Homo sapiens: one gene and its partners. The protein of the gene in region 1 purifies or fractionates together with the protein of each later gene. This does not show direct contact. Each region holds a gene or a part of one and is shown on either strand. Other genes may lie near its edges.

Evidence for each region.
Region 2: the proteins of SLC29A2 (region 1) and ACAD9 purify together in Homo sapiens (affinity purification with mass spectrometry; one large-scale study listed by BioGRID and IntAct). This does not show direct contact.
Region 3: the proteins of SLC29A2 (region 1) and EIF3CL purify together in Homo sapiens (affinity purification with mass spectrometry; one large-scale study listed by BioGRID and IntAct). This does not show direct contact.

What each region holds. Positions count from the first base shown.
Region 1 is NC_000011.10:66,365,369-66,368,886, forward strand, and holds part of SLC29A2 (equilibrative nucleoside transporter 2), read right to left. Parts: intron 3,304-3,518; coding exon 3,169-3,303; intron 2,502-3,168; coding exon 2,404-2,501; intron 2,181-2,403; coding exon 2,096-2,180; intron 1,197-2,095; coding exon 1,063-1,196; coding exon of another isoform or gene 864-1,062; coding exon 758-863; intron 654-757; coding exon 568-653; intron 1-567. UniProt on the Homo sapiens protein: Bidirectional uniporter involved in the facilitative transport of nucleosides and nucleobases, and contributes to maintaining their cellular homeostasis. Functions as a Na(+)-independent, passive transporter.
Region 2 is NC_000003.12:128,910,538-128,913,680, reverse strand, and holds the end of ACAD9 (complex I assembly factor ACAD9, mitochondrial), read right to left. Parts: intron 2,941-3,143; coding exon 2,868-2,940; intron 1,175-2,867; coding exon 1,074-1,174; 3' UTR 567-1,073; downstream 1-566. UniProt on the Homo sapiens protein: As part of the MCIA complex, primarily participates in the assembly of the mitochondrial complex I and therefore plays a role in oxidative phosphorylation.
Region 3 is NC_000016.10:28,379,722-28,383,369, forward strand, and holds part of EIF3CL (eukaryotic translation initiation factor 3 subunit C-like protein), read right to left. Parts: coding exon 3,397-3,648; intron 1,071-3,396; coding exon 911-1,070; intron 813-910; coding exon 747-812; intron 659-746; coding exon 571-658; coding exon of another isoform or gene 544-570; intron 493-543; coding exon of another isoform or gene 457-492; exon of another isoform or gene 418-456; coding exon 255-417; intron 160-254; coding exon 77-159; 3' UTR 1-76. UniProt on the Homo sapiens protein: Component of the eukaryotic translation initiation factor 3 (eIF-3) complex, which is required for several steps in the initiation of protein synthesis.

The DNA of each region.
Region 1 (3,518 bases):
GCCTGGGGCTCACCTCTGCCTCTCCCAGGCTCCAGCTTGTGCTCTCCACCGCATCTACAGTTTACGTACTCGGTTCCTCAGAGCACCCACTGGTGGTTCCACAGACCCCCTTGGGGGCAGATGGGGTTTCTGAGTGGGATTGGAAGCTGTAGATCAGCTCCTGTCCTGACTTGGATGAGACCAGCTCCTCTTTCACCTGCGTTATGTATTGTCTCTTTGGAAGATTTCATTTAAAGATACAGTACCATGGCTAAAACCAACCCCAAAACTAAGACTCTTGCTCAGTCCCTCACCTGGTGCAGGAACCTCCATGTAACATTCTCTGAGCAGCAAAGGCTGGATGCTGGGGACACAGAGGTCAGCTGGACATGATTTTTGCTTTCAGGGAGCTCACAGTGCAAGCCCTGGCCTGCACGCCTCCAGGGCCCAAGTGCTCCCTGCTGCTTGGCCAGTGGTTGCATTACCAGGCCATTTGGACTACCAGAAAATCACCTCCATGCTCTTTCAAGCCCTCGGATCCCAAACTGCTTCCTAAAACATCGGATCACCCAGCCCTGGTGTGCTTACCCACAGGAAGTAAGAGGTCAGGCTCCGTCCCAGCCAGTCCATGATGTTGAAGAGGAGGAAGCAGCAGATGGGGTTGAAGAACTGACCTGGGAGGGAAACGGCTGCAGCTCATACTGGTCTCCAACTCCCCTCTCCCGTCCTCTCCCCTTTGTACCCCCTGCCCTGCCGTCTTCTCCACCCTGACACTCACTCCACTTCCCAGGACTGGTGGAGCTGGTCACCATGGCTGTGATGGCGGGGAAGACGGACAGGGTGACTGTGAAGACCAACACAAGGCACAGCGCTGTCAGCCAGATCTGGGAGCCAGAGGCAGGGGTGTGAGCAGGCAGGGCAGTCCCAGGGCCCCACCCTCTTGCCCAAGCCCCATGTGGGAGCAGGACACTTGGGGCCTGGCCCAGCTGTGTCCCTGACCCACTGTGACCCTATGACCTTGGAGTCAATGTGAGCCCCATTCTTCCCCAAAGATGGTGGTTGGGGGCTGTATCCAAGCCAAACCTTCTGGAAGACAGTGAAGACTGAAGGTTTTCCTGGCTTCTGGGGCTCATCTGGCTCTGATTCCGGCTCCTTCTCCAGGTCAAGATCCAGGGTCAGAGCTACTTTCTGGGGACTACTGGGAATCCCGTTCTCATCTGGGGTGAGGGGGGACGGGGAAGGGTCATGCTTGTGACCCAGGTTTCCCGACAGCCAGGCCCAACGAAGGGAGATTCCCAGCAGTTAAAACAAGTGATCCTCAGCTCAGCATGGTGGCTCACGCCTGTAATCCCAACATTTTGGAAGGCCGAGGCGGGCATATTGCTTGAGCCCAGGAGTTCGAGACCAGCCTGGGCAACATGGTGAATCCCCATTTCTACAAAAATAAAAAAATTAGCCGGGCATGGCAGCCTGCACCTATAGTCCCAGCTACTCGGGAGACTGAGGTGGCTCACTTGAGCCCAGGAGGTCGAGGCTGCAGTTGAGTTGTGATAGCACTGCAGTGCAGCCTAGGTGACAGAGTGAGATCCTGACTCAAAATAACAACAACCCCCTCACCCCAAAACAAAAAAAGGTGATCTTCCTCCAGCCTAAGCTGAGGCTGCAGGCGAAGGGAATTCATGATGGAAATATGCATAGCTACCAGGAAGCGCGTGCATGGGTCGGGTGATGAGCGAAGCACCTTAGATGGATTATCTCATTACCATTGCTTTACAAATGACACATTGAGGTTCAGAGGGGTGCAGTGGCTAAGTGGTTTGTCTCAGGCCACACAGCTGGGATGTTGTGAAACTAGTATTCCAATTCAGAGGTCTTCGGATCCAAAGTTTGCATGCATGGAACCTCTGTCGCCTCCCCATTTTATAGAGGTGGAAACTGAGGCCCAAACAACAGCAGGGATGACTTTAATCCTACCAACTTCCCTTCATGATCTTCCTGTTTGCACAAGGCTACTAGGGGTGGGCTCTGGCTGGGAACAGATGGAACAGCTTCCCAGGGGAGGTGGCTCTAGCTTCCTCTGCATCTCCCACCTCCCCAGGAGGGTCTCAGGGCTTACCAGACTGGAGGAGCTCAGCTTTGGTCTCCAGCTCCTGAGCTTGGGCCTGGGATGATTTATTGGCCAGGTAGTAGCGGGCAAACTTCTGCAGAAGGACAGGAAAGTGTTGGGCCTGCCTGGCTTGCCTGAGGTGTCTGGATCCCTCCCCATACCATTGGCCTGGAGGCTGGGGCCCCTCAGTGTCTTCTCTGGGGGTCAGGGCTGAGACCAGGTCTCCTCCACCTCCCCTGGCCTCTCTCAGGGCCTCAGGCTCAGGACTCTATCCAAGATGCTTTGAGGTGGGGCCTCGAGCCCAACAGCAGGCTCACCAGGTGAGGCAGGCTCAGGTAACACACGATGGACATGAGGATGCCCACACAGGGCGTGATAAAGTACCCCAGGGCAGAGGTCTCGGCGTCCACGCCACCTGCGGAGGAACTTCAGCTGCAGAAGAGAGGCACCTGGTCCCGCCGGCTCCCACGGGGCTTCCAACTCTTGTCCCACTTCCCATTGTGTACTTCTCAGACCCACTCCCAGCCTCTTCCGCTCCTCCCTTCACTGACAAATGGGAATCTTGTACAGGGCCCCAGAGCAGCCCTGCACTTCTCTCACTTTCCCCATGTGTCATTTTTGTTGAGCACGTACTATGTGCCAGTAGCCTTCTCTCATTGCATGCTCATTACAATCTGAGCAGGGAGCTATACCAATCACGTCGGTGGGGAAGCTAGCACAGAGAGGTGACAAGCCTTGTCCAACACCCCTAGCTGGTAAGCGGTGAAGCAGATTCAAACCCAAGACTATCTGAATCCCAAACCCATCCCCTTATCCTTCAACTTCAACCTGCTGCCACATGCCAGTATTAGCCCCAGGAATCCTGCCCCTGTCCCTGAGTTAACCCAGTCCTCACTTGGTTATTACTCCTCACTGCAGGGCCCATGAGCCCCACTCCCTAGCCCCAGACCCAATCCCCATTTCCATATCACCTGCTTACCTCCATCTTCACCCAGAACCCATGTGTCTTGCTCTCACATGCCCTCTCTCTTCCCCAAACCTCAGAGGCCACCCCAGCCCTCCAGCCACCCAAGTGCACTCACTGGCCATGGACAGGAGCATGGCAAGGGCAGCAAAGATCCCAGCCAGGCCCTGGCCGCTGAGGAAGAGGGTGCTGTAGGTGGAGGGCATGGTGCCCAGCTGCCCGAAGAGGCTGCCCTGTAGGACTGCACTGAAGGCTGTGGAGGACAGGGATGGGGGCTGCTGCTCAACTAGGCAAGACTCAGAGGCTCCCTGGAGGAGGTGCCGGCAGGATACACAGGGGACTCTGGACAAGGTTGCGCAGGTGTGAGCTTCCCTAGGGACTCTGAGCACTCGGGGGCAACACCCGCTATTCAGTCCTCTTCTGAGGTGCAGCCATTGGTCTGTGGGGCTGTTGACCAGGAGGCCTGCT
Region 2 (3,143 bases), on another chromosome or scaffold:
GCTCAGCTCTCCAAGTTCCCAGTCTCCTCCTTGCCTATTTCCAGCATCACAGTAAATTGGGAATATACTTGGAGGAAAAAGAGTCGGCTGCCTTCTCTGTGCTCAAGGGAGTGTCCACAATAGGCATTTTAGAGCTCCAGACCACCCAAGGACCACATCAAAGCTTAAAGTTCACCACAGTGAGCACGCTGGGACCTGGTGTAATCTTTCAAGTGCCAGCAGAAGGGAGGCTGGAGAAATGCAAAGGCCTGCTGGCCTGGAGATACCATTCATCCTCTCCTCAAGAGTAGAAGCCAGTTCTTGTAAAGAAACTAAAGTCCCTAGGTGGGAACATCATCAGCTGAGACAGCCTCCCCATCATCTCCTGAGAAGGATAAAAACTAAGGGCTCATAACCCCAAGGGATTGTGGCCTGCACTGTGTGTCTGCTCCTTAGCATTCTGGGCCCTCCTTGCAGGGTGAGGACAAAGGGGACCCGAGGCCATCACCAAAGGGTGGTTCTCAGGGTCCTGCTGTCACCCATTAAAGGCTGGTTCTAAGGAACAGTGTGACAAGTACAGCAAAGGCTAACAGTACACAGATTGTGACATTTTATATTCTTTGTTAAATGGTTCCTGGTACATGTTTTAAGTGCCTCTGCTTCTAGTTTAAATGAATGACCCAGACAGAGCTTTCAAGCTGTTTCTTAGAGAATGTGTGGTTGAGCAGAAATGGCTATCCACACCTGACACAGGTCCCCACCCACCTCACACCCTGGAGGCAGCAGCATAAGCCCCAGTTTCCACTATGGTGTCTCCTCAATGACCAGAATACCCGCCAGTTCCAGGGGTCAGCAATTCCATTCTCTCTCTCCGGCTCAGTTCAGAAGCTGTGATGGTCCTGTTAGAGAGCACTGCCTGCAGGTCAAAACCTGGAAGAGGCTCTCCCAGGCCAGGCGACAACCCTTCAGGTGCAGACGGGGAACAAAAGGCTTAACCTGTGATAATCCCAACACCTTCTGAAAAAAGAGTAACAGTCATCCAGCAACGGGCCATGGGTAGGGGCGGGCGGTAGCAGGGGACACTGTCCCCTGCCTCAGCATGTCCTGTCCAGAGGGTGGGCACAGATATAGGCTCGCTTCTCAAGGATCTGCTGGGACACTTTCTTAATCTGCTCATCTAGGTTTTCTGGAGCATCTGGGAAGGAAAAGGAGAGATGGTGGGTGATCTTTCTGCACCGTGATAAGACAAACATGGCTGAAGTGGGGGCATTTTTCCACAAAGTCAGCCCACCCACCATGAAGCAGCCCTAAGGGTGAACCCCTCCTCCAGACCCCCAGCAAGTGATTCAGGGCTGCAGGGAGAGAAAGGGGTACAGCTTCATTCTCAGTTACAAAGGACTCATCCTGCTCATCTCTAACCCCCAGATCTCATGGGGTGGAGCCGGCACTTGCTCCGTAAACAGCCCATCTGTGATTCCAGCCCACTGGAGGAGAAACCATTTCAGCACCCTCCACAGCACATAACCTGTCAGCACTGGGGGGGTGTCTGGGCTACCCCCAGGGCTAGGACCTGCAAAAAATCATATGCCACTCTCAGCAAGTGCCACAGTGCTGGCGCCTACACCCATCACTTGGCAACACGACTGGGCTTTGTGGGGACACTGATCCAGAACCTCAGGTCAACAGGACTGTGAGGGTCAGAGGTAGACTGAGCTGGGCATTCCTAGATATGGTCGAGTGGCTATAGAAGAGGAAGAGCACTGCAGACAGAGCGGGGAGCACGAGCAAAGCCCTCTGTTCTCTAGGCCAAGGCCTGAGACCTCTGCAGGGCACTGCAGGGTCATTTTGGATGGAGTACAGTGGGTAAAGGGGCAGGTAAAATGCTGTCTCCAGAATCAGGTACAACCAGATGCTCCTCCCTTCGTGAGCCTTCCCCGGGCAGCTTCAAGAATACAGCCAGGGCTGGGCACAGTGGCTCATGCCTGTAATCCCAGCACTTTGGGAGGCCAAGGTGGGCGGATCACCTGAGGTCAGGGGTTGGAGACCAGCTTGGCCAACATGGTGAAACCCTGTTTGTTTCTACTAAAAATACAAATATTAGCTGGGCATGGTGGTGCGTGCCTATAATCCCAACTACTCAGGAGGCTGAGGCACAGGAGTTGCTTGAACCCAGGAGGTGGAGGTTGCAGTGAGCCAAGATCATGCCACTGCACTCCAGCCAGCCTGGGTGACAAAGTGAGACTATGTCTCCAAAAAAAAGAGAATACAGCCAGGCATGCTGGGCAGATGCCAGGGGTCCTGCGCAAAGGGCTCTGCACTTGCTCAATCTAAAATTGCCTTGGCAGGCCCGGTGCGGTGGCTCATGCCTGTAATCCCAGCATTTTTGGAGGCTGAGGCAGGCAGATCACCTGAGGTCAGGAGTTGGAGACCAGCCTGGCTAACATGGTGAAACCCTGTTTCTACTAAAAATACAAAAAATTAGCCGGGCGTGGTGGCGTGCGCCTGTAATCCCAGCTACTCGGGAGGCTGGGGCAGAAGAATCGCTTGAACCCAAGAGGTGGAGTTTGCAGGGAGCCAAGACTGCGCCATTACACTCCAGCTTGGGCAACAAGAGCGAAACTCCATCTCGAAATAAATACATACATACATACATACACACACACACATATATACATACAACTGCCTTGGTGAATGGGGCAGGTATGCACCTACAGTGCCTGGTGGGCACTGCTGCAGCTAAGCCCAGGCCTACCCAGGCCCTCGCTCAAGGCAGAGGTCTGTGAGTAGCTAGCAGGCTCTGGGAGCTTGACAGGGTCCAGAAACAGCTCACCATCAATAGGGGCCTAGAAGTGGGCCCTTCCTTCCCTCCCCCAAGACATGCCACTCACACTTGTCCAGCTGAGAGAGGCTGAAGAGATTCTGCAAGTAAGCTTCCACGCAGAAGGTGTTGGCCAAGAGAACCTGCCAGAACCGAGGACAGAAAAGATATGCCCAAATTCCTGGAATCAGACCTCTGAGCTTCAAAAACCCAGCCTATCAGCCAAACTGGGTAGCATGGCAGGGGTCACAAGGCCTGGCACAGGAGTCACCCCGTCTTGGGTTCTAATTCCAGCCCTGATCCAACAGCCTTTCCCCAACAGCAAGTGACTCAACATCTCTGACCC
Region 3 (3,648 bases), on another chromosome or scaffold:
AACAGACCTTTAGTGACTGAGGTGTGGTTTAGGACTTCAAGGTTGGATGGCCCAGGCGGGAAACAGAGTGGAGAGCTCAGTAGGCCGTCTGAGACTGCTGCTGGCGGTAGCCACCGCGGCGCATGTAGCCCTCGTTTTTGCGGTAGCCGTCCTTCTGGTCTGTAGGAGAGAGATGGGAAGGAAGGGCAGGGAATGCCAGGTGAGAGGCGGTGAGGGCACCAGGAGTGGGCAAGGAGAGGAGCCGAAGTACTCACCTCGGAAGTAGCCCCCGTAGGTGCCCTGCTTGTGGTCAAACACCCGTTCGTTGTTCTCCACCAGGCTGCCCAGCTTCTCGGCCAGCTGCAGAGCCAGGTTCTGCTGGGCAGTGGGCTCAGTGCGGTGCATCACCACTGTCTGTGTTGGCTGGTCCAGGGAGGCCTGACAGGCGCCAAGGCAGAGGAGGGGACACGACACAGATCAGGCCCCTCTGCTCCAATCCCTCCATGGCTCCACCTGCCCGCTTCCCACCCCGGCCCCTACGCTCCAATCCCTCCATGGCTCCACCTGCCCGCTTCCCACCCCGGCCCCTACCATCAGCTCCTCATTAATGATCATTTTGCTGATGATGGAGTGCACAGTGGGCAGATCCAGCTCAAACATGTCTGACAGCGTCTCCATGCTGGGAAGAAAGAAGGCAGAGGGCAGGGGCAGTCAGGACACTTGCCCACAAGGCTGGGGCCCTTCTGTGTCCCCAGGGCCCCGCCTACCTGATGGAGTCATAGACACTGCTGTAGGTGAAGAGGTAGGTCCTCAGTGACTCTTCCTGGATCTTCCTGTGGGAAGAGGGGACAGAAGACACAACAGGGCCTCAGGGAAGGGGACCAACCAGTCTCTTCTTCCCCGACCCATCACGGCCTCTCTGTCTGCTCACCTAACCAGCATGGTGCGGACTTTGTCAGCCTCGGGGAAAAGGTCCCACACTTTCCCATTCATCTTCTCATTGATGATAAAACTGTGACAGGTCTTCCAGTCACCCATCTTCATGGCCTTGGAGGCAGCGACCACATGTTCCCGCATGGACTCAGGGGGACCTGAAAGGGTGGGAATGAGGCAGGGCCTAGGGAACTTGGGACAAGTTCCATTAGCACTCTTTAAGGAGGAACAGAGGCTGGAGGAGCAAACCATACTAGAGACTCTCCCCGCCTCTCCACCAAACAGCCACGTAGTCGCCCAAGCCACTCCATCTGCACAAATGTTTGAACTCAATCAGTCCATAGATGCACTTCAGGGGACTGCCGAAACCCTCAAAAATGTTGACAAATTGTGCACATGTCCTCATGTACATTCTTCCTAGGAAAAAGGCCCATGGCTTTCATCAGATTCTCGTAAGCTTCCTTGACCTAAAAACACCTCTTCCAGCCAGGCGTGGTGGCTCACACCTGTAATAATCCCAGCACTTTGGGAGGCCAAGGCAGACGGATCATCTGAGGTCAGGAGTTGGAGACCAGCCTGGCCAGCATGGCAAAACCTCGTCTCTACTAAAAATACAAAAATTAGCCAGGCATAGTGGCACACGCCTGTAATCCCAACTACTCGGGAGGCTGAGGCAGGAAAATTGCTTGAACCCGGGAGGCAGAATTTGCAGTGAGCTGAGATCTTGCCACTGCACTCCAGCCTGGGCTACAGAGCGAGACTCTGTCTCAAAAAACAAAACAAAACAAAACCAAACCACCTCTTCCAGCTCAACTGGAATGGAATTTACCAACCCTTCCTCACTCACATCACCTTCATGAATGGTGCCATGCCCATGCATCAATTACACTGTTGCCAGCTTATTATTCTTCCAAGCAGCTCACTTCTTTTCCTTAAAAAACTTAGCCCCGGTCAAAATTATCTCTAAAATCACAAGTTTATATATTAATTATGAACTCAGGCCCCCAAATACAATCCTAAGACAAGCCAGGAAGGTAAGACATGGTACGCCATAGTAACTGGAATTCAGGGTAGACAAAGTGCAAAAGTTCTACGGCTAGAAATGGGTGGCAGACAGTGAAACACAAACACGCAGACTCCACAGCAAGAACGGCAAGCTCAATGCGAACGGGGATCAGGTCCAAATGGAACCATAGGAGCAGGGCTAAGTGTTAAGAGTGTAAGGAGAGGCACACAGCCCTCCTGGATGAACCTCCATTTTAACCATATTAACACTTGCAAAAGGCAAGGTTGGTCTGGGCGCAGTGGCTCACACCTGTAATCCCAGCACTTTGGGAAGCCGAGGTGGGCGGGCCACCTGAGGTCAGGAATTCGAGACCAGCCTGGCCAACATGAAGAAACCCCATCTCTACTAAAAATACAAAAAATTAGCTGGACATGGTGGCGGGGGCCTGTAGTCTCAGCTACTCGAGAGGCTGAGGCAGCAGAATCACTTGAACCCAGGAGGTGGAGGTTGCAGTGAGCTGAGACTGCGCCACTGCACTCCAGTCTGGGCAACAGTGAGGCTCCGTCTCAAAAAAAAAAAAAAAGAAAGAAAGAAAGAAAAAGGCAAGTTTAGGGGCTCAAAGAATATTTCTCTATAGGCCGAACAACAGTGCAGGGCTGATGGAAACTGGCTTTTGGAACCACTGTAGGGAGAAATTGAGAGGCAGGGACTGTGGAGAAGCAGACAGCCCTTTCCCATCGCTGCTACTTCAGCTCCAGCCAAGGCTAGCTCTGCAGGAAGGCAGGGCCAGGAGCGACAGACTGCCAATATTCTAAGACATGAAAATTCCGATTTTCATGGGAAATTTCCCCACAAAGTAAATCTCACTACATAAGCCAAACAAAATGTGCCTAAGGGAACCTGCCCTTTAGCCCAAACATATACATGACCAGGAGAGGACAAATCTGTAGGGGGATGTGGCTGTGGACACTGGGCTCAGCTCACTCGTCAAGCCCTCCTGTGGGCCAATGTCACAGGAAGGGCGCAGCTCAATTCCTTTCCAGTGAGTCACCACTCACTGCAACCCTGCAGGATCTGTCTTTCAAAAGGGGCCAAAGGAATCAACGTTAGCCTCTTGAACGATAAGGCTCTATGATAGTTGGTTTGGCTGGAATATAATGTACATGAAGGGAAGAAAAGGGAAAGAAAGATCAGAGGTACACATGAGCTGCATTAAACTCGGGCAAGTCACTTAACTACTCTGTGCCTCAGTTTCTCCACTGGGAAAAAGGGTATTACTAGTACCTACCGGCATAGGGTTATTACTAATGCAGATTAAATAATTATTTGTAAAACACTTAGCACAGTGCCAGGCAGAGGAGGTGTCATTAAATCAGATGGAGTCGAGTGGTGGGAGAGTTACTCCCTTCACTTCTCTTAATCCTTATGTGTAATCAGGGAGCAAGGCAGCCTGCTGAACCCTGGAGCTCCACACTCACCCAGCAGGGGCTGTCGCTCGCCCACGCGCAGCTGGTGGTGGAACTGCTTGCTGATCATGCGTCGGCGGGCATCGCTCTCATGGGCGGCCATGTAGGGGATCTCCAGGAGCATGGCAGACACCAGGTAGACACACTCCAGCAGCTCCAGGTTGATGTGCAGGTGGAAGGGGACCTGACGGCGCCGCTCCACCTTCTCCTGCTCCTGGTTGCGCTCCTGCAGGCTGCGCAGCAGCAGGCCCTGGCCCAGAAGCT